Linked DNA regions of Homo sapiens. The protein of the gene in region 4 purifies or fractionates together with the protein of the main gene of each other region. This does not show direct contact. Each region holds a gene or a part of one and is shown on either strand. Other genes may lie near its edges.

Region 1 (3,500 bases), on a different chromosome or scaffold from region 4:
CCAGCCCCACAGGTTAACCCTGGTCTTAGTTTTGCATGTATCCTTCCAGCCTTTTTGTGTGATTACAAACAATTATGAATGGAGATTCTTATTTCCTTTCCCCTTTATTTATAAACAATATATAGTAAATTAAACACACTGTTCTATACCTTGCTTTTATTTCCCTGGACAATAAACCTTAGAGAGATCTTTCAATGGCAGTATATCTTTTTTTTTTTTTTTTTTTTTTTTTTGAGACGGAGTCTTGCTCTGTTACCCAGGCTGGAGTGCAGTGGCGCGATCTCTGCTCACTGCAACCTCCACCTCCCGGGTTCAAGGGATTCACCTGCCTCAGCCTCCCGAGTAGCTGGGACTACAGGTGTGCGCCACCACACCCAGCTAATTTTTGTATTGTTAGTAGAGATGGAGTTTCACCATGTTGACCAGGATGGCCTTGATCTCTTGACCTCGTGATCTGCCCTCCTTGGCCTCCCAAAGTGCTGGGATTATAGGCATGAGCCACCATGCCTGGCCCTTTTTTGTTTTTATAGCTGCATAAAATTCCATTGTGTGTTCCATCATTTTGTCACCATTATTCTACTGGTTGAAATAGTTCCACCCCCAATTCTTTTGTTGTCACAAATGATTATTACATTGTACATATATGCATGTGTAAATATATCTTACATATAATTGGGCTGGGCACAGTGGCTAATGCCAATATTCCCAACACTTTGGGAGGCTGAGGAGAGAGGATCACTTGAGCCCAGGAGTTTGAGACCAGCCTGGGCAACAGAGCAAGACCCTGCATCTATTAAAAAAGAAGAAAAAGAAAGTAAGCAAAAAAAGCATAATTGCCAGGTGCAAGTTATGGATATTTAAAGATTGTCTTTTTTAAACTTTTTATTACAGAAACTTAAAAACATATATAAACTCCCTACAAAGGTGTATCTGTGGTTCCCTGTCTTTGGACACATAGGATGGTATTCCTGTTCTCTATTTCATTTATTTTTGTCCTAGTCTGTAGTCTTTCCCTCTGCTGGCTCTTGGTTTAGTGTGTTCTTCTTTTTCTAGTTTCTTAAGATAGAAGGGTAGATTATGGAGTCAAGATTTTGTTTTTAAAAAATTGATGTTTATAGCTATGAATTTCCCTCTAAGCACTACTTCAGCTGCATCCTGTAAGTTTGGATATGTTATGTCTTCATTTTCGTTCATTTTTGAGGTATTTTATAGTTTTCTTTTGATTTTTTTCCTTTAACTCACTGGTTACTTAATGAGTATATTGTTTAATTTCTACATATTTCTGAATTTCCAAATTTTTTTCCTCATTCATTTCTAATTTTATTCCATTATGGTCAGAGAACACACTTTGTGTGACTTAAATTCTTAATTCTTTGAATATATTTATTAATATAATGGCTACTTTTAACTCTTTGTGAGATCCAACATCTGGGCCCTCTCACAGGTGGTTTCTGTTGCCTGCATATTTTCCTATATATGTTTCATACTTTACTGTTTCTGCATGTTTCATAATTGTTGAAAATCAGACATTTTAGATAGTATGTTGTAGTAACTCCAGATAGAAATTCCTGCCCTCCACCCCATGGCTTTTGTTTGTTCATTTGTTCAGTGACTTGGCTGCACTACTTGCATTCAGTCTCCCCCTCACAACATGAAGCCTCTAGTGTCTCTTCTCAGAGTGCACGGTCTTGGCCCTGCACACAGCCACACTAGATGACAGTGGTTTCAGCAGGCTTTTTGACTGTTTCTTTCATGAATTTGTTAAGCCATCTGCCTCTGCTGGTATCACCCCCAGCTGTTAGGCTCCATTCATTGCCAACTAATTGCTTTATTGTTTTTGACATGTGGGGCATAAGTTGTTCCATAGTTTAGTCCAGTTAATTGTGGGCCCCTTTGTCGGGCTAGTTTTTGAGGGCAATATATAGGTTTGTTCTGAGTCCAGGACGGCTCTCAGTTGCCCTTTCCCTGGTTCTCTCTGTTAAACTAGCTGTCCCAAGGTTTAGCCTGTTGCTATCATGGAGCAATCAGCCTCCTTTTAATTGCCTCCTGCCAAAATCTCTACATTTTTGAAGTGCCTATAGGCTTGAATTTCCCCATACTCTGTTTCATATTAAGTCAGGTCCTTTGGAGAATGTTTTGGAGCCCTGTATTCTTACGGACTGCCTCTCCCCCTGGGCAAAATCCCCGAGGCCCTGCTCTGGAGTTGGGGTCAGGAATAATGGCTTGCTTCACTTGGAAGGACATTCCTGCTTTATGAGCAGGGAGCTAGGCAGGGATGACAACCTCTGCTCTCTCGGTTTGCATCTCCTTTTGTGAAACCTCCACTCTCTGAGCAAGCTTCCGTGAGGGCAATCAGGGCCCCGATACTTTTGTCCCACTGCACTTGAGGTAAAGCCTCTGCCCTGTGGGTGGGGCTGAGTGGAGGAAGGGAGCCCTTGATCTTTTTCAGGAATTTAGTTGCTGTATCTTGGAGCTGGTGGCCCTCCTGGTAAAATACCATATATCATATCTCATGACTGGATGTTGAGAGAATAGGAAGTCCCTCCCCCTCCACCGCCCCACCCCACTTTTTTTTTTTTTTTTTTTAACTACGCTTACCTGCTGGAGTGGAGCTTTAGTCTAACTGAGCTGTGGGGTAGGGGTTTGGGGCATAGATTGAGGGAGCATGTCATGGTTCAAGTGCTGCAAATTCTCACTATTCAAGATTTAGTAGCTGGGCATGGTGGCTCACACCTGTAATACCAGCACTTTGGGTGGGAGGATTGCTTGAGCCCTGGAAAGCCTGGACAACATAGCGGGACCCTGTCTCTACAAAAAAATTTGTAAAAATTAGTTGGATATGGTGGCACACACCTGTAGTCCTACCTTGGGAGGTTGAAGTGGGAAGATTGCTTGGACCTAGGAGGTTGAGGCTTCAGTGAGCTGTGATCATGCCACTGCACTCCAGCCTGGGTGACACAGTGAGACCCTGTCTGAAAAAAAAAAAAAGATTTAGTAGATTTTCTTGAGTAAACATTTCTTCATTTGTTATATGTCCTTAGGAAAATTTCCAAAGAGTTTAAATGCTTTATGTTTGTTTGTTTGTTTGTATTGAGACAGAGTTTCACTCTTGTTGCCCAGGCTGGAGTGCAATGGTGCGATCTCGGCTCACCGCAACCTTGGCCTCCCAGGTTCAAGCAATTCTCCTGCCTCAGCCTCCCGAGTAGCTGGGATTACAGGCATGTGCCACAAGGCTGGCTAATTTTGTATTTTTAGTAGAGATGGGGTTTCTCCATGTTGGTCAGGCTTGTCTCGAATTCCTGACCTCAGGTGATCCACCTGCCTCGGCCTCCCAAAGTGCTGGGATTACAGGTGTGAGCCACCGCGCCCAGCCATGCTTTGTGTTTTTAAATTTTCATCAGTAATGGAGTTTCCCTGTGGAGTGTGCGAAATCCCTCATGCTGCCATTTCAGAAGTAGGACCGCTCCCACTTTTTGTTTTTGAGACAAGGTCTTGCTTTC
Region 2 (4,219 bases), on a different chromosome or scaffold from region 4:
CATTTACACTGATTCCAAGTATGATTTTTTAGTGCTTCATGCTTATGCTGCAATTTGGAATGGGTGGGGACTCCTGACCCCCAAGGGCTTTTCCATACAACATCGTTCAGATTTTGAGCTTGTTAGAGTGCTGCTTTGCTGCCAAAAAGTGAGTATAATTAATTGCAGAGGACATCAAAAGAGAGACTGACCATGTAAAAGGAAATGCCCTTGTAGATGCCACAGCCAAGGCCCCTGCACTGAAAGGGCCAATGAAGCTTGTGGGCGTGCTGGTCAGCATACATAGAACTGGGCCAGAATACCCTGAAGAAGAACGAAAATGGGCCAGGGATTGCATTTCAGTCCAGGGCCCCTCGGGCTGAATGATGGTAATAAATTACTAATGCCAAGTACCAATCACAGGAGTATAACTCAGCACTTTCATGATTCTTTTCACCCTAGAAGGGATTCTTTGTTTCTGTTAATGTCTCATTTGTTTATAGGGGTAAATCTTTTCAAGACACTAAAACAGGTGACTCAGCCCTGTGAGCTTTGTGCCTGACATGACTCAAATGGCCAGCAATTTTCTCCTTCTCCAGTTAAACCTGTCCAAAATTGAGGAACCTATCCAGGTGAGAACTGGCCACTCTAATTTACCCGGAAGCCTTTCTGCAGGAGATTCAAATATTTGCTAATGCTTACTGACACCTTCACTGGTTAGATCGAGGCATTCCCCACCCCATCTGAAAAATGTTTACCAGAAGAAATAACTCCTCAGTTTGGGTAATCCAAAAGCCTGCAAAGTGACAATGGCCCATCTTTCACAGCAGGCGTATCCCAAAACCTGTCCTCAGCTTTAAGAATCCAATATGACCTTCACTCTGCTGGAGACCACAGTCCTCTGGAAAGGTGAAAGGGCTAACCCTACTCTAAAGAAGACTCCAGCTAAATCAGAGGCCTGACTGTCTCTAACACCCATAGCTTATTGTGGGTTAGAACTGCTCCAAAGTAAAACGTATAATTGAGTCCTGTTGAGTTCACATGTGGAAGGCCTTTCCTAACCACAGATCTCCTAATAGATGAAAAGACTCATCAATTACAAAAATATGTCATCAATCTAGGACAGGTGCAAAGGCACTCCGTGCATATGGAAACAAGAGTCTTCCCCTCCCACATGGGAGGAAAATTCAGTTTCAGCTCAGCTAGGGATTTAGTCTTACTAAAGACGCGGGAGGAAGTTCTCCAGCGAGCAGCTTTCCCCAACGTGGAAAGGACCACGCAAGGACACCTGAGCTTTCCAACAGATGTTCAGCGCCAGGGGATCCACAGGTGGGTGCACCTGTGTGGAAGTAAAGCTGTTGCTTATTCTGGGAGCCGAATCCGAGGCGGAGGGAGGTGGGCGCGGGGCTATTTAAACGTTGGCGGAGGGCGGGCTGGGTCGCTGCGCGTCTGCTCCTCCTTCTCACGTTTCTCCTGCCGTCCTAATCCCGCCTTGGCCATGAGGGAGATCGTGCTCACGCAGATCGGGCAGTGCGGGAATCAGATCGGCGCCAAGGTTGGCAGCCGGGGCTCTGAGGGCCTAGCCCGGGCCTGCCGGGTGGCCGGGGAAGGTGTTGGCAGTGGCGGGGGCGGTGCCCATGCATTGCGGCCCCTGGGCTCCCTGCCGGGGACGGTGGAACCGGGTGGCTGGCGAGGCGGCCGGGGTGGACCCCAGGGACAGGGCGGCCTAGGGATGGGGGTGCGGATGAGGGTGGGGGTGGGAGAGCGGCTGGGGCGCCTCCCTGACTCAGCCCCGGCCTGTCTGTCTCCTCCCGTCTCTTGCAGTTCTGGGAGGTGATCTCTGATGAACATGCCATCGACTCCGCTGGCACCTACCACGGGGACAGCCACCTGCAGCTGGAGCGCATCAACGTGTACTACAACGAGGCCAGCGGTGAGACCCCCGTCCTTCCCCCACCGCCCTCCTGGGAACGCGGCCCTCCCCTCGCTCATGCCCTCCCGCCCCACGCAGGTGGCAGGTACGTGCCCCGCGCTGTGCTCGTGGATCTGGAGCCGGGCACCATGGACTCTGTGCGCTCGGGGCCCTTCGGGCAGGTCTTCAGGCCAGACAACTTCATCTTCGGTGAGCTGCGGGCGAGGACTGGGGTGCGGCTCCTTAGCCAGGGCAGCTCAAAATCCAGGAGTGTGCTAAGGTCATCCTCTGGGAACTGTGGAGCTAGGGCCCCTGAACACCCTCCTATCCTCCGAGTCGAGTCGCTCAATCTGCCTCTCCTAAATGGGCTTCGGGAGGAAGGCCCTGGTGTCTCCTCAAGGTGAGGAGTTACTGATGTAAACTCCCTGCAAGAACCTGAGCTGGGGCCGTGGCTACTGCCTTTCCTGAGAATGGGCAGGAGCCACCTGCAGCGAGGTCTGTGAACCCGTCTCAGGTTTGACTCCTGTCTTAATTCCTAACAGGGGAAGCTGCTGTCCTGTAACTCTGGGGGAGGGGGTTTCATCTGCTCCACCTGCAGGGCGAACGGTGCTCTCACCTCACGTGTGACGCTTGGCTCTTTCTGCATTATGGTGGTGACCACTGATGACCGTATACCTGGCCGTCGAGTGACCGGCTGTGCTGTCTTACAGGTCAGTGTGGGGCCGGAAACAACTGGGCCAAGGGACACTACACCGAAGGCGCGGAGCTGATGGAGTCAGTGATGGACGTTGTCAGAAAGGAGGCTGAGAGCTGTGACTGCCTGCAGGGTTTCCAGCTGACCCACTCCCTGGGTGGGGGGACTGGGTCTGGGATGGGTACCCTTCTGCTCAGTAAGATCCGGGAGGAGTACCCAGACAGGATCATAAACACATTCAGCATCCTGCCCTCGCCCAAGGTGTCGGACACCGTGGTGGAGCCCTACAACGCCACCCTCTCAGTCCACCAGCTCATAGAAAACGCAGATGAGACCTTTTGCATAGATAACGAAGCTCTGTATGACATATGTTCCAAGACCCTAAAACTGCCCACACCCACCTATGGTGACCTGAACCACCTGGTGTCTGCTACCATGAGTGGGGTCACCACGTGCCTGCGCTTCCCGGGCCAGCTGAATGCTGACCTGCGGAAGCTGGCCGTGAACATGGTCCCGTTTCCCCGGCTGCATTTCTTCATGCCCGGCTTTGCCCCACTGACCAGCCGGGGCAGCCAGCAGTACCGGGCCTTGACTGTGGCTGAGCTTACCCAGCAGATGTTTGATGCTAAGAACATGATGGCTGCCTGTGACCCCCGTCACGGCCGCTACCTAACGGCGGCTGCCATTTTCAGGGGTCGCATGCCCATGAGGGAGGTGGATGAACAAATGTTCAACATTCAAGATAAGAACAGCAGTTACTTTGCTGACTGGCTCCCCAACAACGTAAAAACAGCCGTCTGTGACATCCCACCCCGGGGGCTAAAAATGTCAGCCACCTTCATTGGGAATAATACGGCCATCCAGGAACTCTTCAAGCGTGTCTCAGAGCAGTTTACAGCAATGTTCAGGCGCAAGGCCTTCCTCCACTGGTACACGGGCGAGGGCATGGATGAGATGGAATTCACCGAGGCCGAGAGCAACATGAACGACCTGGTGTCTGAATATCAGCAATATCAGGATGCCACGGCCGAGGAGGAGGAGGATGAGGAGTATGCCGAGGAGGAGGTGGCCTAGAACTCTCCTTTTCTAGGTAAAGGGGGGAAGCAGTGTGGATTCTTTACTGTGTTCTGACAGCCATGTGTCACTATACGCTTGTTAATTTGTGTCTTCACATCTCCTGCTGCGTTTTAAAGCATTTTTATAGTATGCGGTTTTGACTAATAAAGTATTCTCACAGCATCTGGTTTTGCCTCCATCTTCTTTCTATGGGCCCTCTGGCTACTGCTGCCAGATGCGCATAGTTGTCCTGCAAGGCGGAAGCTGTCTGGGTTCATCACATGCCCAGGAACAAGCATTCCAGTGGCTCCAGGAGGGGTCGGTATGGGCTGTGGACATGGCAGGCAGGCTTCACATGAACTTGGGGATGCCCTGGGCCTTGGGCAGTGACGTGGTGGAAAACCTGTTGCTGAAGGCAAGCCTTGGCTTATCCCATATACCAAACTTCTAGGGGACCAGCTGGCCATGTTTCTGGAACGTTAAAAGGGGTCAGTGACCCTGGTGGACAATGTCCCCAGAGTCCCATCTCAGGGTAGGAATGTGGTCAGAGCTGGCTCTGAACCAGCAATGAAGGGTGG
Region 3 (2,841 bases), on a different chromosome or scaffold from region 4:
GGAAATGAAGTAGTGGTTAGGAATAAAAACTTGTAAGAAGTTTGTTTGACAGTGAAAGGAAGGAATAATAGTCTCATAGATGAAGAGGAGAGCAAGAGACAGAACGTTTTTCCCAGCACAGAGAAAAACCTATGGGTGGTTAAAGGAAGTGGTAAAGGAGCCAGGAGATGACTGGAGGTGTTGGAGAAAACAGATGTAAGGGTGCAAACCAGAATGCAAAAGACTTGAGAAGAGATGGCATCAGCAAACCACCTCATCACTGTAGCCAAACTAATGCAGGGTCGATCATCTGAATGTCCAAAGCCAAGAGTCTCCTCTTCCTGAATATGAGTAGGAATTAGAGGAGTAACCAACCTGTCTAACCAGGTAACTAAAGCTGCTTTTGTGTGAAATAACCGTTGGGAACAATTGGAACTGTGTGAGACAAATAAAAGCCAGGTGGCTCCTGGGAAACCTGCCTTAAGGGGAATCCACACCAACTTTAAGTGTAGCTGAGGTGTCACAACAGCATCTGGGGCTAGCCTTAAAGTGGAAAAAAAAAATCACACTTTTTCTCCCACTGATGAAGGCAAGCCCTAGAAAATAGAGCTTTGTAAGTTAGACACTACAATTCACTGGTTTCATATAGAAAACTAATTACAAAGGCATCCTTATGATGCCAAAAATTAGGGACTCTATTAGGTAACTGAACTATGTTTTCCAAAGTATAAAAACTTGCCTCTAGACTTGGAAGTTATATGTAGCCTGCTTGAGACCAAAACTCAAAGGCAGAGACACATCTGGCTAATTATTAATCCAGAACTCTCTCTGAAGTCAGCATTATTTTCAAAGAAAATGGTTGGATATAGCCAAGAGAACATGTAATATTTAACTGATTATAGAGAACACACATAGAAAACTACATTTTAAATGAAAAATCTTCAAATAATGCTCATGGTCTTTATATACTGTTTCATAAAAGCTGGGAAAGACTCTTATTCAAATTCTTGGCAGTGAAATATTGCTAGAGTGACAATTAAACAGTTAGATTTGACAGAAACCAATTCCTGAATTCTCAAAATCTGAACTTAACCCCTCATTCCTATTTCTCCCCAAAGACCTCAGCCCATAGCATAAGCCAGAAACAAGCATCTCCTTTTTACTTTCTTTTTAAAAATGCAGACACCATTGCTGCTGGGCACATTATAAGCATCATTTGTAGATGAGGCCTATAGTTAGGTTCAATTAGATTCAAAGAGAAGCTGTTTCACAGAATACAAGTCTCCCATTCTTCAACAGAGATGTGGGCTGCTTTTAAACGGCAAGCTCTACAAGAGAGGGCTTATGAAAATCCCTTTCTGTAGCCAAGATGGACACTGTCCTTTCCCTGACACACCAAGCACCAAATCCTCATTTGGAATCTAGCAAATCTCTCAAAAATTTTAAAATCAAAACCAGAAACCCAAGTTTCCATAGAGAACTGGCTAAAAATTGGTATGCAATCATAGCAAGTGACTCAGCACTGCTACAATTACTTCAAGCCATGAACTTGATGCGTCCAAGATTAAGGAGCCTATCAAAATGCACCCAAGTTTCAGGCTGCTTAGTAATAACTATTGTCCTGCCACGAATCCCCATTACTGGTAGAAATTTGACCCAGACACAATTTTAAAAATGCTTACAAGTGAACTGAGACTCCCAGTCACTCAGAGTCTCCTGCTGGGCAGCAGTGAGGTCAGAAAGGTCATCGTACTCATCCTTCAGTGCTTCCTTATCCAGGCAAAATGTGGCAAGGCCCCTGGATGCATCTCTTCCAGCAAAGACCCCATACGGCCCCTCTTCAAAAACAAAACCAAAGATCAATTCTTTATTAGACAGTCAATTTCTCTGTGATTTATACACAGAAAATGGCTTCCCTATTCATCAACATAGCCCCATTTTTGAATATCAAATTCCATTAGGAAACCATAGTAATGCTGATATTCTGAACATTATGTAGGAGACACAGAAAGACCTGTTGTCATTTAACTTTTAAATAACTAAAAGTAAATCAAACTGCTATACATTTGCGTCAGTCTCCTGTGGTTTCCAAATAGCTAGTAAAAAAGTCATACGTGGTTAGTGATCTCTTGGGGTAGTGGTAGTAGGGAATCATACAAGAACATTGAACTGGGAGCCTGACAGTTCTAGGCACTTGGGGCTACACCAGTGAGAGTTATGGTTTCTTAAGATAATAAGCACTGATGTGTACATGAAAACACATTTCCTTATGAATATATTCTGATATGTTTTAATGAAACAAAGGTATCTTATAGAGATCTTTGGTTCCAAGGCTCAATTAAACATTAACTCATGGCATCTGCAGAAGAACCATTTTATAACAGTATCGGTGGTTTAAAAATCTATCCACATTACATAACCTTCACTGTCAATAAATAGATAACACAGAGATCAGTCTTCATTATCTGTTTTTTGGTGGGCTTGAGAAGACTGTGAAAATACTAAAATTTTCATGGAAAAGAGGCTGAATCAATACTGCAAAACAACTCTATAAAACAACTCTATAAAATGTGATTATTTGTGATATTATACTGAACTTTTGTCTAAGAGAGCAGAGAATCATTCTGTGGGTACACAAAGTGGATATTTAGACTTATTTAAATATTGCACAACTAAATGAAGAGAATCCAGTGTACTTTAAACAATGTGTTGTTTCCCCCAAGGCAGATTGAATAGCAGCCCTGACATTAAAATGTTTGTAGGGAACCAAGTATGAGAATAGATCAAGTTTCAATATGGCCTGTTCACCTGAAACCTCAATACACTCAGAAATTTTTTACAAATTTTACAACTTTTAAATGC
Region 4 (3,500 bases):
AGTAAGAGGCAGAGCTTGGATTCGAATCCGCATCATCAGGCTTGAGCTCTGTGCTAGTAACCTAGCTCCTCTGCCCTTCCCCCTAGCCTCTCCTAGAAGAAGACCATTTTGGGTCTCCACGAGGCTGGTGAGGACAGCAGAGGGGCAGAATGGGCTGTGATGGACTGACGAGGACTTCTGGTCCCCTGGGTCCCTCAGGAGTGGGTGGTAATTTGGACAAGAAGGACAGGTGGCCCCGATCAGGTGACCCCAGTCCAGCGCACCTGCTTGAGCGTGAGGTTGAAGAAGGAGTCGTGGAAGTCCCACTGCAGGATGTCTCCGTGAGTCTGTGCCTCCAGCTCCAGCAGCCGGTTGACCTTGCGGGCCTCGTGCGGGTTGGAGGCTGTGCCCACCAGGAAGAGGAGGCGCAGCTGCAAACCCCGTACCTTGCGCTCGCGGCCCCACGTGCGCCGCAGCAGCTCGCGGCGCACATAGTTGCTAGGGGAGGACTTGATCACCAGCAGCAGGAAGACCGGCTGCGCGCACTTAGAGGGGGGCACGTCCTGCAGCAGGGGAAAGTGGCGGCAGTGTCTGTACAGGAGGAAGTTCTGAACGTGCTGCGGCTGCGTGGCGAAGTCCGGGTGGGTGACCATAGAGGTGTTGGCATGGCACGGGGCCGGGGCTGGGCGGGTGGGTGGAGTGGGCCAGGCCAGGGCCTCGGGGATCGCCGGTGGCTGCTCCTGGACCTTGCAGGTGGGTGGTGACACTAGCAGACTGAAGAGGAGGAGGGTGAAAGCGCCGATGGCCAGAATGAGGGTGGCATTGGGCCGCCGGTGCCGGAGATACTTCATCCTGGCCAGCCAGGGTCTGGGGTCGGCCTGAGGAGCCTCCTGGGCGGCTCCTGTGGAAAACAAAACTCACTGAACACTCGCCATGAGCAAAGCGCTTTTCCTGTGGCCCCCAACATCTGGTTGCACCTGTACAGTTGCTCAGGTTGGCAAAATATTGAAATTCACCCCCCACTTAACTCCTCCACCCCTTGCAAGACCCATTTCAAAGCACTCCAACCCCTGTTGGCTCTGACAGGTGCCCTGGCCCTCCCTGCTGGGGATTAATTTTTTAAATTTTTTAATTTTGTTTTTTTTTTTTGAGACAGCGTCTCTCTCTCTCTCTCTCTCTTGTTCTGTTGCCCAGGCTGGAGTGCAGTGGTGTAATTTCCGCTTACTGCAGCCTCCACCTCATGGGTTCAAGCGATCCTCCTGCCTCAGCCTCCTGAGTAGCTGGGATTACAGGTGTGAGCCACCATGCCTGGCTAATTTTTTTGTATTTTTAGTAGAGACGGGGTTTTACCATGTTGGCCAGGCTGGTCTTGAACTCCTGACCTCAAGTGATCCACCTGCCTCGGCCTCCCAAAGGGCTGGGATGACAGGCATGAGTCACTGTGCCCTGCCTTTCTGTGTGAAGTCTTAGTTTCCTTATTAGGACATGGGGGTGCTGAGGTTCCTGCTCCAATACACACACACACACACACACACACACACACACACTGGGGCCACTGCTCCCTGACTGCAAAAGGGCTTGATGCATATTAGCTGTGTGGTGACCGCCTCAGTGACCATGAGTCCACCATCCTGGCTACCTTGATTCCCCAGCTATTCCCACTTACAGCATGGAGCAGTATCAGAACCCAGGACTTTTTTTTTTTTTTTTTTTTCTTGAGATGGAGTTGCCCAGGCTGGAATACAGTGGCACAATCTCGGCTCACTTCAACCTCCGCCTCCTGCATACGAGCGATCCTCCTGCCTCATCTTTCAGAGTAGCTGGGACTACAGGCACGCGCCACCACGCCCAGTTAATTTTTGTATTTTTAGGAGAGACAAGGTTTCACCGTGTTGGCCAGGATGGTCTCGATCTCCTGACCTCATGATCTGCCCACCTTAGCCTTCCAAAGTGCTGGGATTACAGGCATGAGCCACCGTCCCCAGCCGGAACCCAGAACTTTGATGGGTGCAGTATGCCCATCTCATACGTCCCTCAACTCGGGGTCACTGGGAGACTCCCTTCCAACACCTCAGGGCCTCCCAGAATCTGTCACAAGGGACTGCGTCATGGATGGCACCAAACATCCCTCAAAGAGAACCTGGCCAACTCTCGGCCACCTGGGGCACAGACAGGTGAATATCCGTGAACGTGCATGAGTCCAATCCTGTTAACTGTCACAGTGCTCATCAGCCCTAGAGTGTTAACTGAGCACCTACTGTATGCTAGATGCTGGGGATACAGCTGTGACCAAGCCAGCCCTGCCCTCAATATAACAATAAGTAGAACAGCTTGGGCAGCATGGTGAAACCCCGTCTCTACAAAAAACACAAAAATTAGGCTGGGCGCAGTGGCTCACACCCATAATCCCAACACTTTAGGAAGCCAAGGCAGGTGGATTACTTGAGGTCAGGAGTTCAACAGCAGCCTGGCCAACATGGGGAAACCCACTCTCTACAAAAAAAAAAAAAAGAAAATACAAAAATTAGCCAGGCATGGTGATGGGTGCCTGTAGTCCCAACTACTCGGGAGGCTGAGGCAGGAAAATCACTTGAACCCAGGAGGTGGAGGCTGCAGTGAGCTATGATCACACCATTGCACTCCAGCCTGGATGACAGAGAAAGACTCTGTCTCAAAACAAAACAAAACAAAAAATTAGCAGGCTGTGGTAGCATGTGCTTGAGGTCTCAGTTACTTGGGAGGCTGAGGTGGGAGGACCACCTGAGCCCAGGAGTTCAAGGCTGCAGTGAGCTATGATCACACCACTGCACTCCAGCCTGGGCAACAGAGCAAGATGCTGTCTCAAAAAAAAAAATTGTAAATGATACTAACAATTAGTGACAGCCATACTAATTGTTACTGAGGCAGGTCCACAGGGGACCTGAGCAACCTAGGATCAGGGAGGTCCTGAAGGATGATGGGAATTCACTTGAGCAGACTGTGGGGAAGGGCATTCCAGACAGAGTGGAGCATGTGCAAAGGCCCTGAGATGGATACAAATTTAGGGTGCTGGTGGCAGAGCGAGGAGGCTGACGTGGTTGGGACAGGGCGAGAGAAAGGAGGTGATGGTGGAGTTATGGGACCCTGCTAGGGTACAAGAATAGAATGGGCACGCCAGAAAGAATGTCTTATGTTTCCTGTGAGAAGCAATGAGGAGCCATGGAGGGTCTATGAGCAGGGGAGGGATCAGATTGATTTATGCCTTTAAGAAGTCCCCTGTGGGCTGGGCAAGGTGGCTCAGGCCTATAATCCCAGCACTCTGGGAGGCTGAGGTAGGAGGATCGCTTGAGCTTAGGAGTTTGAGACCAGCCTGGGCAACATGGTGAAACCCCATCTCTACCCAAAATACAAAAGTTAGCCGGCGTGATGATGCATACTTGTAGTCCTAGCTATGCGGGAGGTTGAGGTGGGAGGATTGCCTGACCCCAGGAGTTTGAGGCTGCAGTGAGCTATAATCACACCACTCCAGCCTGGGCAACAGA
Region 5 (3,500 bases), on a different chromosome or scaffold from region 4:
GAAGAATGAAATCATCTACTAAAGAAAACTAAATGTTATGCCCTATGGGGAAAGCATTAAGGGAGAGGGAGAAAAAAATGGAACAAGGAAAGCAAAGGACTGGCCGCAGCTCAGGGAGCAGGTGAGTGTGATCTGCAGTAAGAGGGTGGGTGGAAAGATAGGTGACAGATGGAAAAAAACATCTGGAGTACAACAGCAATCGCTGGAGGCCTGAATATGAGAGAAAAGACATTCAAGAATGCCACCTAGATTTCCTTCTTGAGTGCATTGATGGGAGAAAAGCCTAGAGAGCAGAGAAGCAGAAGGCAGATTAAGTACTTACAGGAGTTCAAGACTAGCCTAGGCAACATAGTAAGACCCCCATCTCTACAAAGAATAAAACAATTCACTGGGTGTGGTGGCATGCGCCTGTGGTCCCAACTTTGGGGGTGGAGCTGGGGTCCTGAGACAGGAGGATGGCTTGAGCCCAGGAGGTTGAGGCTGCAGTGAGCTGTGATTACAAGTGCTACAAAGTAAGCAAACAGCCTGGGTGAAACAATGAGTCCCTGTCTCAAGAAATAAAATAAAATTAGTATTTACAGAAAAACCATGAATTCAATTATTAATATGTTTGTTTGAGATATCTGTGAGTCATCCAGTTGTAGTCTGAAGCCCTGCCTGAGACAGTATGCTGTATCAGAACACAGTTGGGGTTATTCAGCCAGGGGAAGCGTCGAAAGAGGAGGGGCAATGAGTGAGTTCTCAGGGACAACAACATTTAGGAGTCAAGAAGAGAAAGAAGATAAAGTAAAAAAGATTTTTGTCTTTAATCTCAAGAAACTGATTGAAATATAGGAGGAAATAAAGCAGGATACAGGCAGACAAAAACAGTCCTAAAATGCTATCACCATAATCATTTTGTTTCATTAAATACTAAGTCACTTAAATTATTCTGGCAAAGGAAACATTTACAATTGCTTTTCACCTTTTTGTGAAATTAGAACGAATGTACATCTTAAATATGGAATGCATTCACTTGAACTTTTAAAATCAATTTCTTATTCTGGGTAGTAGCTGCCAAATCTCATCTACAGTAGACAAAAGCTGGCTGTACGAATTGCAGGGTTACAAAGAATCCTGCTTTCTGACACTTATCTTAAAAATCCACAAATTCAAAATAAAGACGTAACTCCCAACCAAACCACGCCCTATTTAATAGAGCTCCATGCAGTCATATCTGGCATCAGTAAAACACCAATGTTGGCTCTCTCCCATCACGGCAAAATGATTCTGGGTAGAAAATGAACTTAGTTTTCATTCAGCAAAAGTCTTTCATAAGAAAAAAAGAGGTTGGGCACAGTGGCTCATGCCTGCAATCCCAACACTTTGGGCGGCTGAGGCAGACAGATCACTTGAGGTCAGGAGTTTGAGACCAACATGGCAAAACCCCATCTCTACTAAAAATATAAAAATTAGCCAGGCGTGGTGGCATGAGCCTGTAATCCCAGCTACTCGGGAGGCTGAGGCAGGAGAATCACTTGAACCTGGGAGGTGGAGATTGCAGTGAGCCAAGATTGCGCCACTGCAGTCCAGCCTGGGCAACAGAGGAAAACTCTGTCTCAAAAAAAAAAAAAAAAAAATGCTATGAGTAAGAGAGTCCCCACCTCCCATAACTAAGAGAGCAGCTCGTCATCAAAACCCCATCGGTTCTTTTTCTAGAGCAGAGTTGGTTAACACAGTGAAACTCTGTGTGTGTGTGTGTGTGTGTGTGTGTGTGTGTGTATAAATTATAATATGTAAATTTATTACATATACAATTTTTTTTCTACGGGTCTAAAATTTGACCCCAAAATCACACAACTACCCCTTTTCATCAGAATTAAATGATTTTTGAGTGCATACTAGAACAAAAGAACAGTTCAGGTAAGTTTGCTTTTGAGGGTCAATATCTTGAATAGTGCTTGCTTGGGACATTGCCACAGTAGTCCTAATGAGAGTAATACAAGCACAGGTATGTACACGTTCTTAGTGTTGTAGATCATACCAGGTTCTACATCAGGATAGGAGAACTGGTTCTCAAGCTTTGCCTGGAAACCTACAAGCAAAAATCACTTCTGGGTTGTCTTCAAATAGTAGCTCACAGCAGTGGTCCCCAACCTTTCCTTCCCTGGACATAGAGGGGGATGCTTTCGGGATGAAACTGTCCAACTCGGATCACCAGGTATTAGGTTCTCATAAGAAGCATGTAACCTAGATCCCTTGCATGCACACTTCACAGCAGGGTTCACACAATAGGGTTTGCTCCTATGAGAATCTAATGCCACCACTGATCTGACAGGAGGCAGAGCTCAGGTGGTAATGCTCACTCTCCTGCTGCTCACTTCCTGATGTGCAGCATGGTCCCTAACAGGCTATGGACTGGTACTGGTCCATGGCCCGAGGGTTGGGGACCCCTGTCTTACAATATATTTTATAACTTTTTGGTCAAAACTATTCTGCCTACCTTATGATAAATTGCTTCTTTGAATGTAGGGTACTCTAATTCATCTTTTGCACCTGCCACATTATAAGAACTCAAGAAAAGTTTAAATGGACAGTGGAGTAACAAAGTAAATTCAATAGCTATGTCTCAATCTTAAAGTAGCCATATATAAATAAGTCATTTCCACTACGTCTGAACCCCTCAAGAATGCAGAAAGCATCCTCTATTAAACATCCAATTATTTAAATTACCCTTAAAACAATTTCCTTGTGTAACATCTCTACTTAATTTTGGGTTTCAGATACTTTCTTTACTTGGCACTATAAGACAGAGAGAGCTCGGAAGTTATTAGGAGAAGGCCTTCAACAAAGACAGAGAAAAAGAGCCCAGTAGGAGCATTCTCTGAATGAAAACACCACTCTATTGGCAGCACATAGCATGAGTTCCTTGAATAATACCAGGAACAAGCCTGTTGCTTTTCATCAGGCTATCTGCACATTATAGGCATGAAATGATGGTAATCAGGTGTACAAATGGATGTTCATTAAGTTTTCCTAAGCATACCTTCATGTGCAGACTTGCATACTGGTGAAATGCTACAGAAATGGCAGAATAATATAAAAGGAATGTGTCAATATCTACATGCTAAATTTGTGAGGGAAAAAAGCTGATGAAGTTTTTCATCCAAAATGCCATCTCGATATTAAAGTTATCATTAAGATATTTAAGTTTTTTAAAGAGAACAATGAAGAGATAGAGAAAGTAAAATGACCTTAGACATATGTTAAAGTCTTACGAGGAAGCTGTGTAGTGAAAAAGAAATACTTGCATAGAAAACTGGGTACAAGGTGATAAAAGATGCTATATAAAAAAATTAAGGAATAAAAAGCAACACAGGCCAGGCACGGTGGCTCATGCCTGTAATCCTAGCACTTTGGGAGGCCAAGGCAGGAGGATCACTTAAGGTCAGGGGTTCAAAACCAGCCTGGCCAACATGGTGAAACCCCATCTCTACTAAAAATACAAAAGTTAGCCAGAA
Region 6 (3,500 bases), on a different chromosome or scaffold from region 4:
AAATACAAAAAAAATTAGCCGGGCGTAGTGGCAGGCACCTGTAGTCCCAGCTACTCGGGAGGCTGAAGCAGGAGAATGGTGTGAACCCAGGAGGCGGAGCTTTCAGTGAGCCAAGATCGTGCCACTGCACTCCAGCCTGGGTGACAGAGCAAGACTCTGTCTCAAAAAAAAAAAAAAAAGAGAGTAAAGAAGGACTTTGATGAATATATAACATTTTAACAAATGTATATATTCGTTAAAATGTTATATATTCATATATAACGTATATATATTCATATATAACGTGTATATATATGTGTATATATATATATGTATATATATATGAAGGACCTTCCAGGCATTAATATGATATTTAAAATATTGCTAATTTTCTATTATTAATTACTTAGTAGTATGAAAATTTGGACTTGTTTCCTCATTTATAAAGTTTATACTTTAAAAATATTTGTCCTTTTCCTTTTCTGAAAAATGTTCTATGTTTTTAGGTACGGCCGAATAGAAATTCTGTCTGGATTTATTAATGGACTTTTTCTAATAGTAATAGCGTTTTTTGTGTTTATGGAGTCAGTGGCTAGATTGATTGATCCTCCAGAATTAGACACTCACATGTTAACAGTAAGTCTTTTTATTTTCCTATTTGGATTTCTAGTCATACTTACATAGTTTTTTCTATCCTAAAGTTTAATTGTTTGCAGTTATTGCTCTAAGAAGGTTTTATTTTTTACTTATATCAACATAACTTCCTATCTTGCTGTTTACATTTATACTGCTCCCTCTTAGAAATTCTCTTTTTTTTTTTTTTTTTTTTTGAGACAGAGTCTCTGTTTTCCAGGCTGGAGTGCAGTGGCATGATCTCAGCTCACTGCAGCCTCCACCTCTCAGGCTCAAGCGATTCTCGTGCCTCAGCCTCCTGAGTAGCTGGGATTACAGGCATGTGCCACCACCCCCTGCTAAATTTTGTATATTTTGTATAGATAGAGTTTCGCCATGTTGGCCAGGCTGGTCTCGAACTACTGACCTCAAGCAATCCTCCCACCTTGGCATCCCAAAGTGCTGGGATTACAGGCATGAGCCACTGTGCCCGGCCAGCTATAGCAACTTTTAATGTTCTCCCTGTACCACCAAAGCTTTACATGTGCTGTTTCTTGTAGTTGGCATGTCCTTTCCTTACTTCTGCCCTTCAGCCTCCATCAAGATTTTGCTTATGTGAAATACTTTTTTTCTTTTCTTTTTTTCTTTTTTTTCAAGCAATTCTCCTGTCTCAGCTTCCCGAGTAGCTGGGACTACAGGCGCCTGCCACCACGCCTGCCTAATTTTTGGAAATACTTTCTTTTAATCCCCCTCTTCTCTCCACAAAGTTTGTTAGATTCCTTTTCTCAGTATTCTCATTATGTTTTGTGCATTCTTCTTTTAGCAACATTGAGTTGCAGTTGTTTAATTTGTCATTCTTCCACAATTAAGATATGTAAGTATCTTCAGGACCTGAATTACATATTATTAACTCTTAAGTTCAGTTCTAGCACCTGGCTTGTCGTAGGAAATCAGTTGTTAAATGACAAAAAGCAGCTCTGGCTCTTGCTGGTGGAAGCATACATGAGTAAAATGTTTCTATAATACAGTTTGGAAAAATAGACTTTTTTGGATTTTTTAGTGCCTGTATCCTTTGATATTGACTATTTATCATACATAAACATTCACACAAACATATAGAAGTACATGACTCTGGCCGGGTGCAGTGGCTCACGCCTGTAATCCCAGCACTTTGGGAGGCCGAGGTGGTTGGATCACCTGAGGTCAGGAGTTTGAGACCAGTCTGGTCAACATAGTGAAACCCCATCTCTACTAAAAATACAAAAATTAGCCGGGCATGATGGCGCACACCTGTAATCCCAGCTAGTTGGGAGGCTGAGGCAGGAGAATCACTTCAACCACGAGGCAGAGGCTTCAGTGAGCCCAGGTTGCACCAACTGTACTCCAGCCTGGGTGATAGAGAGACTCTGCCTCAAAAAAAAAAAAAAAAAAAAGTAGTACATGATTCATTGTACCCTTATTTATAATAGTGAAAAAATGGAAACAATTCACTGTCCACCAGTGAAAAAAGTAATTAAATAAATTTGTTATCTATATAATAGAATATTACAGAGCTATTGAAAAGAATGAGATATATCTGTATATACTGGCCTGAAAATATTTACGAGATGTACTAGTGAAAAACAAATTGCAGGCCATGCATGGTGGCGGGCGCCTGTAATCCCAGCTGCTTGGGTGGCTGAGGTAGGAGAATTGCTTGAACCTGGGAGGCAGAGGTTGCAATAAGCCGAGATCATGCCACTGCACTCCAGCCTGGTTGACAGAGCAAAACTCTGTCTCAAAATGAAAAAAAAAAAATTGTAAAATAGTATTATGATTACATTGTTGGTTTTAAAGGGTGTTATGTGTATGTATGTTAGTACACAGATGGAAAATACACCATTTTAAGCGTGACTAACCCTTGGTGGTAGAATTATAGGGGACTTTCATCTTCTACATTTTTATTTTCCTGATAAAATACACAATGATGAAGTATTTTTCAGTAGGGGAGAAGGAGTACTTATGAGATGATGGAGTCTCTGTAAGCAGTACTTGGTTTCATTCAAAGTCATTAACCATCTACCAGCTTATAAAGCCTAATGAAATTTTAAAATCTGGAGTCAAATGGTCCGAATCAGGAAGAAGTAAATAACCTCCCTACACATTTAATAAAGTAAATCTCTTACTACTTTTGAAAAGTAATTAAAAGTATTTGTCCTTCTCATATTTATATTTTCCTTTTATAAAACAAATGGATTGCTTTAAATTGTAGATGTAGGCAAATTAACACCCTGAGCTACTACTATTCAAGATCATTTTGTAAGAGCAGATAATCAAGGATAAGTAACTTTGTTTATCCTTTGGAGTATTATTGTGGCACCATTAAATTAAAGTAATTTCATTCACTTTGTTAAGAAAAAAATGAGAGGCCAGGCATAGTGGCTCATGCCTGTAATCCCATAATCCCAACACTTTTGGAGGCCAAGGTGAGAAGATCGCTTGAGCCCAGGAGTTTGAGGACAGCCTGGGCAACATAGACCCTGTCTCTACCAAAGAAAAAAATTTGTTTTTAATTTAAATAAATGCGAGATTACTATTGTATGTTTCCTTTTTATTATACTTGTTTTACTTTGGAAAATTTTACTGTGTTTAAGACATAATAAGACCATATTTGGAATCTGCTCATTAATAAATTATAATTGTTGGCATATAAACTGTTCAAATTTACCTAGCAATATAAAGATTTCAGGTACAGTGTATACTTGCCCTAGTAAGCAGTACTTTCAAACTCTTCAATAAACAAAACAAAACTTTGCATCATTTATTTATACATAAACCATAAACCAAGTACATACCATTCTTAATTGAAATAAGTCCAAATTCCTCTACTTACCAATTCTGCTTGATATTTGAAAGTTAAAATGTTTCTT
Region 7 (2,538 bases), on a different chromosome or scaffold from region 4:
TCACGGAGTGAGCTCAGTCCAGGTGGGTAAGGGAAGGGGCTGCTCTGTGCCCCTTGGACTTGTCCCCAGCCTCAGGTGCTAGTGCCCTCTTCCTGCAGCCAGCCCAGGCCTGGAGCCTGCATCTCCTCCTGCTCAGCCAAGCCCGTGTGGGGGCCCCTCCTCTCCCTCACTGGGCACTGGCACCTCTTTCCTAGGCTGAGTGGTCTCTGGGGAAGGCACAGGTGGAATGACAGGGGCAGATTCCAGTCCTTGCCCTCTGTCCTCTGCGAATAGGGCTGTTCATGACAGTGTTGGGCAGGGAGTCTTTTTCCTCCTCTGCCCTTGCCTCTCTGTACACCTGCCTCCCTCTGTGTTTGTTCCTTTGCCTTGCAGCAGCTCCCTTCCTCCCCTTTCGTCTCCTGCCCTTCCTGGTGGGCTGTTTCTCTTCTGGCTTCTCCAGGTGTTCCTCTCTTCTCGGCCACCGTGTGTTCTGCCCTGGGAGTCCTTCAGCCCGGGCTGCCTCTTTTCCTACCCAGCCCCCTGTCCAAGTGCCCCCAGGTGTGCCTAGTCACGCTCTGCTCACCCCCGCGCTCTCTCTGCAGTGATACCCAGCGCCGCAACCCTCATCATTGTGGTGTGCGTGGGCTTCCTGGTGCTCATGGTCGTCCTGGGCCTGGTGCGCATCCATTCCCTTCACCGCCGCGTCTCAGGGGCCGGCGGGCCTCCAGGGGCCTCCAGTGACCCCAAGGACCCAGACCTCTTCTGGGATGACTCAGCTCTCACCATCATTGTGAACCCCATGGAGGTGAGAGGCCTGGGGAAGCGGGGTTCTGTAGGGTCAAGACTGTGGAGCACACACGGTGAGGACTCCTGAGGAGGGGCAGGCCTGGGTGGAGGCTGTTCGCAGAGCTGCAGTGAGCCGGAGGGAGAGAGGTTCAGGCAGGGAAGGGGGTACACAGGGGTTAAGGGGACCGAGGGAAGTGTGGTCCCTGAAAGAGAGGCTGGGATGTGTGCAGGCCATTGATCCCTTCTCCTCTCTGTTCCTGCCCTCCAGTCCTACCAGAATCGGCAGTCCTGTGTGACGGGGGCTGTTGGGGGCCAGCAGGAGGATGAGGACAGCAGTGACTCGGAGGTGGCCGATTCCCCCAGCAGCGACGAGAGACGCATCATCGAGACCCCCCCACACCGCTACTAAGGCCTACACCTCTCCCCACGCAGAGGGGGAATTCTGCCCTGGTGAAACAGACACTCCAGACATGGGAGAAGGACTTTCTGGGAACACAGAGACCAAGAGGGAGAGAGGCTTCAGAACCAGTCCTCCTTTCATTTCAAAACCCCAGCGGGCCCTCTGGAGTCCGCCCTGCCCCTCCCCCGGCCCCCCATCCCTCACTTCTGGGCTGTCATGCTCCTGGTGTGCCCCTTGCACTGGGGCTGGCTGGGTTGGAAAGTGGGCTGGACTTCAGCTGCCTTTCTACCCCCAATGGCAGCTGCCCCCTTAGCACTCACTGTGTTGGGGAGAGGGTGACGATTGCAATGGCTGGGGCTGGGGCTGGGGGTGGGATTGAAGGAAACCCTCTCCTCTCCCCTTCCCTTCTCTCTCCTGTCCATGGGAAGCTTTTCCCCCTCTGCAGGGCTCCCTCAGCTGGACCATCGTCCCTGCTTCTCTTATGATCGCCCCACCTCATTTCCATTTCAGTCTGGGGACCCCATTTCTCCCTCCTTTCCAACTTCCTTCCTTTCTTGTCCTGTTTCCCTTCCTGCCCTTGCAGTCCTGAGGTCCTGCAGCCCCGGCCCCTCCTCCGTGACCTGGTGTGGCCAGGCTGCGGGGACGGGAGGGGACGTGGGGGCCCCGGGTGTACATATATAATGTATATTTTTTCAATGTTGTCGTGAGTGCAGCCCATGTTCCTGCGTGCAGCTCACGGCCTTGTGTGTATGTGTGTGTGTGTGTGTGTGTGAGGCATCGTCATGTCCTGGGGCAGGGGCGGGGGGTTGGGTGTGGTGAGGGAGGGGACATATCCTAGGGTTTTCAAATAAAACAATCAGAAAAAAAAAAAAAGCTCTGTGAGGCGCCTCCTGACTGCCTGGTCCTGTGTGGGTGTGGTGGAGGCTCTGGGGCCTCAGGGGCTGTTTGGGTCTCTGCACAGAGCTGAAGTGAGGTGGGCAGGGCTGGTGATCTTGGGGGCCTGACCAGGTAAGTCCCCAGGATGCCAGATCACCTGGAAAGTAAGCTGGGGGCAGATGGTTCCCACGCCTCCCTTCCTTCAGCACCCCCTGGAAAAGTACAGAAGATTCAGGGAATGCTATGGACACCTGGGCAGATGCCCAGTGCCTTGCAGGGGTGCTGCCAACCCCGCCCCACAACTTGGAACATTTTGCCTGTGCACATGGGCTCCCTGCTGGGCGGCCCCAGGGAGAAGGCAGGCAACCCTGCTGTTTGTACCAAAGGGATCTGGAGACTGTTCCCAGGCTGACCCTTTCCTGCTAGCCAAGGCTCAGACCCAGGGGATGTCTGCCTGCCTTGCCCATGTCCTTGTGGCTGCCTCACATGGCTGCTTA

What was found.
Region 1: the proteins of B3GNT3 (region 4) and OS9 purify together in Homo sapiens (affinity purification with mass spectrometry; one large-scale study listed by BioGRID and IntAct). This does not show direct contact.
Region 2: the proteins of B3GNT3 (region 4) and TUBB8 purify together in Homo sapiens (affinity purification with mass spectrometry; 2 studies listed by BioGRID and IntAct, with this or other methods). This does not show direct contact.
Region 3: the proteins of B3GNT3 (region 4) and PGRMC1 purify together in Homo sapiens (co-immunoprecipitation; 3 studies listed by BioGRID and IntAct, with this or other methods). This does not show direct contact.
Region 5: the proteins of B3GNT3 (region 4) and ITGAV purify together in Homo sapiens (affinity purification with mass spectrometry; one large-scale study listed by BioGRID and IntAct). This does not show direct contact.
Region 6: the proteins of B3GNT3 (region 4) and SLC30A5 purify together in Homo sapiens (affinity purification with mass spectrometry; 3 studies listed by BioGRID and IntAct, with this or other methods). This does not show direct contact.
Region 7: the proteins of B3GNT3 (region 4) and CLSTN3 purify together in Homo sapiens (affinity purification with mass spectrometry; one large-scale study listed by BioGRID and IntAct). This does not show direct contact.

Annotation. Positions count from the first base shown.
Region 1 is NC_000012.12:57,711,132-57,714,631, forward strand, and holds part of OS9 (protein OS-9 isoform 1 precursor), read left to right. Parts: intron 1-3,500. UniProt on the Homo sapiens protein: Lectin component of the HRD1 complex, which functions in endoplasmic reticulum (ER) quality control and ER-associated degradation (ERAD).
Region 2 is NC_000010.11:46,497-50,715, reverse strand, and holds TUBB8 (tubulin beta-8 chain), read left to right. Parts: upstream 1-1,419; 5' UTR 1,420-1,477; coding exon 1,478-1,534; intron 1,535-1,803; coding exon 1,804-1,912; intron 1,913-1,990; coding exon 1,991-2,101; intron 2,102-2,257; exon of another isoform or gene 2,258-2,291; intron 2,292-2,433; coding exon of another isoform or gene 2,434-2,601; coding exon 2,602-3,659; 3' UTR 3,660-3,828; downstream 3,829-4,219. UniProt on the Homo sapiens protein: Tubulin is the major constituent of microtubules, a cylinder consisting of laterally associated linear protofilaments composed of alpha- and beta-tubulin heterodimers.
Region 3 is NC_000023.11:119,239,285-119,242,125, reverse strand, and holds part of PGRMC1 (membrane-associated progesterone receptor component 1), read right to left. Parts: intron 1,818-2,841; coding exon 1,662-1,817; intron 1-1,661. UniProt on the Homo sapiens protein: Component of a progesterone-binding protein complex. Binds progesterone. Has many reported cellular functions (heme homeostasis, interaction with CYPs). Required for the maintenance of uterine histoarchitecture and normal female reproductive lifespan.
Region 4 is NC_000019.10:17,805,138-17,808,637, reverse strand, and holds part of B3GNT3 (N-acetyllactosaminide beta-1,3-N-acetylglucosaminyltransferase 3), read right to left. Parts: intron 881-3,500; 5' UTR 831-880; coding exon 264-830; intron 1-263. UniProt on the Homo sapiens protein: Beta-1,3-N-acetylglucosaminyltransferase involved in the synthesis of poly-N-acetyllactosamine. Has activity for type 2 oligosaccharides.
Region 5 is NC_000002.12:186,596,556-186,600,055, reverse strand, and holds part of ITGAV (integrin alpha-V isoform 1 preproprotein), read right to left. Parts: intron 1-3,500.
Region 6 is NC_000005.10:69,118,014-69,121,513, forward strand, and holds part of SLC30A5 (proton-coupled zinc antiporter SLC30A5), read left to right. Parts: intron 1-485; coding exon 486-615; intron 616-3,500. UniProt on the Homo sapiens protein: Together with SLC30A6 forms a functional proton-coupled zinc ion antiporter mediating zinc entry into the lumen of organelles along the secretory pathway.
Region 7 is NC_000012.12:7,156,908-7,159,445, forward strand, and holds the end of CLSTN3 (calsyntenin-3 precursor), read left to right. Parts: intron 1-581; coding exon 582-784; intron 785-1,033; coding exon 1,034-1,174; 3' UTR 1,175-2,038; downstream 2,039-2,538. UniProt on the Homo sapiens protein: Postsynaptic adhesion molecule that binds to presynaptic neurexins to mediate both excitatory and inhibitory synapse formation.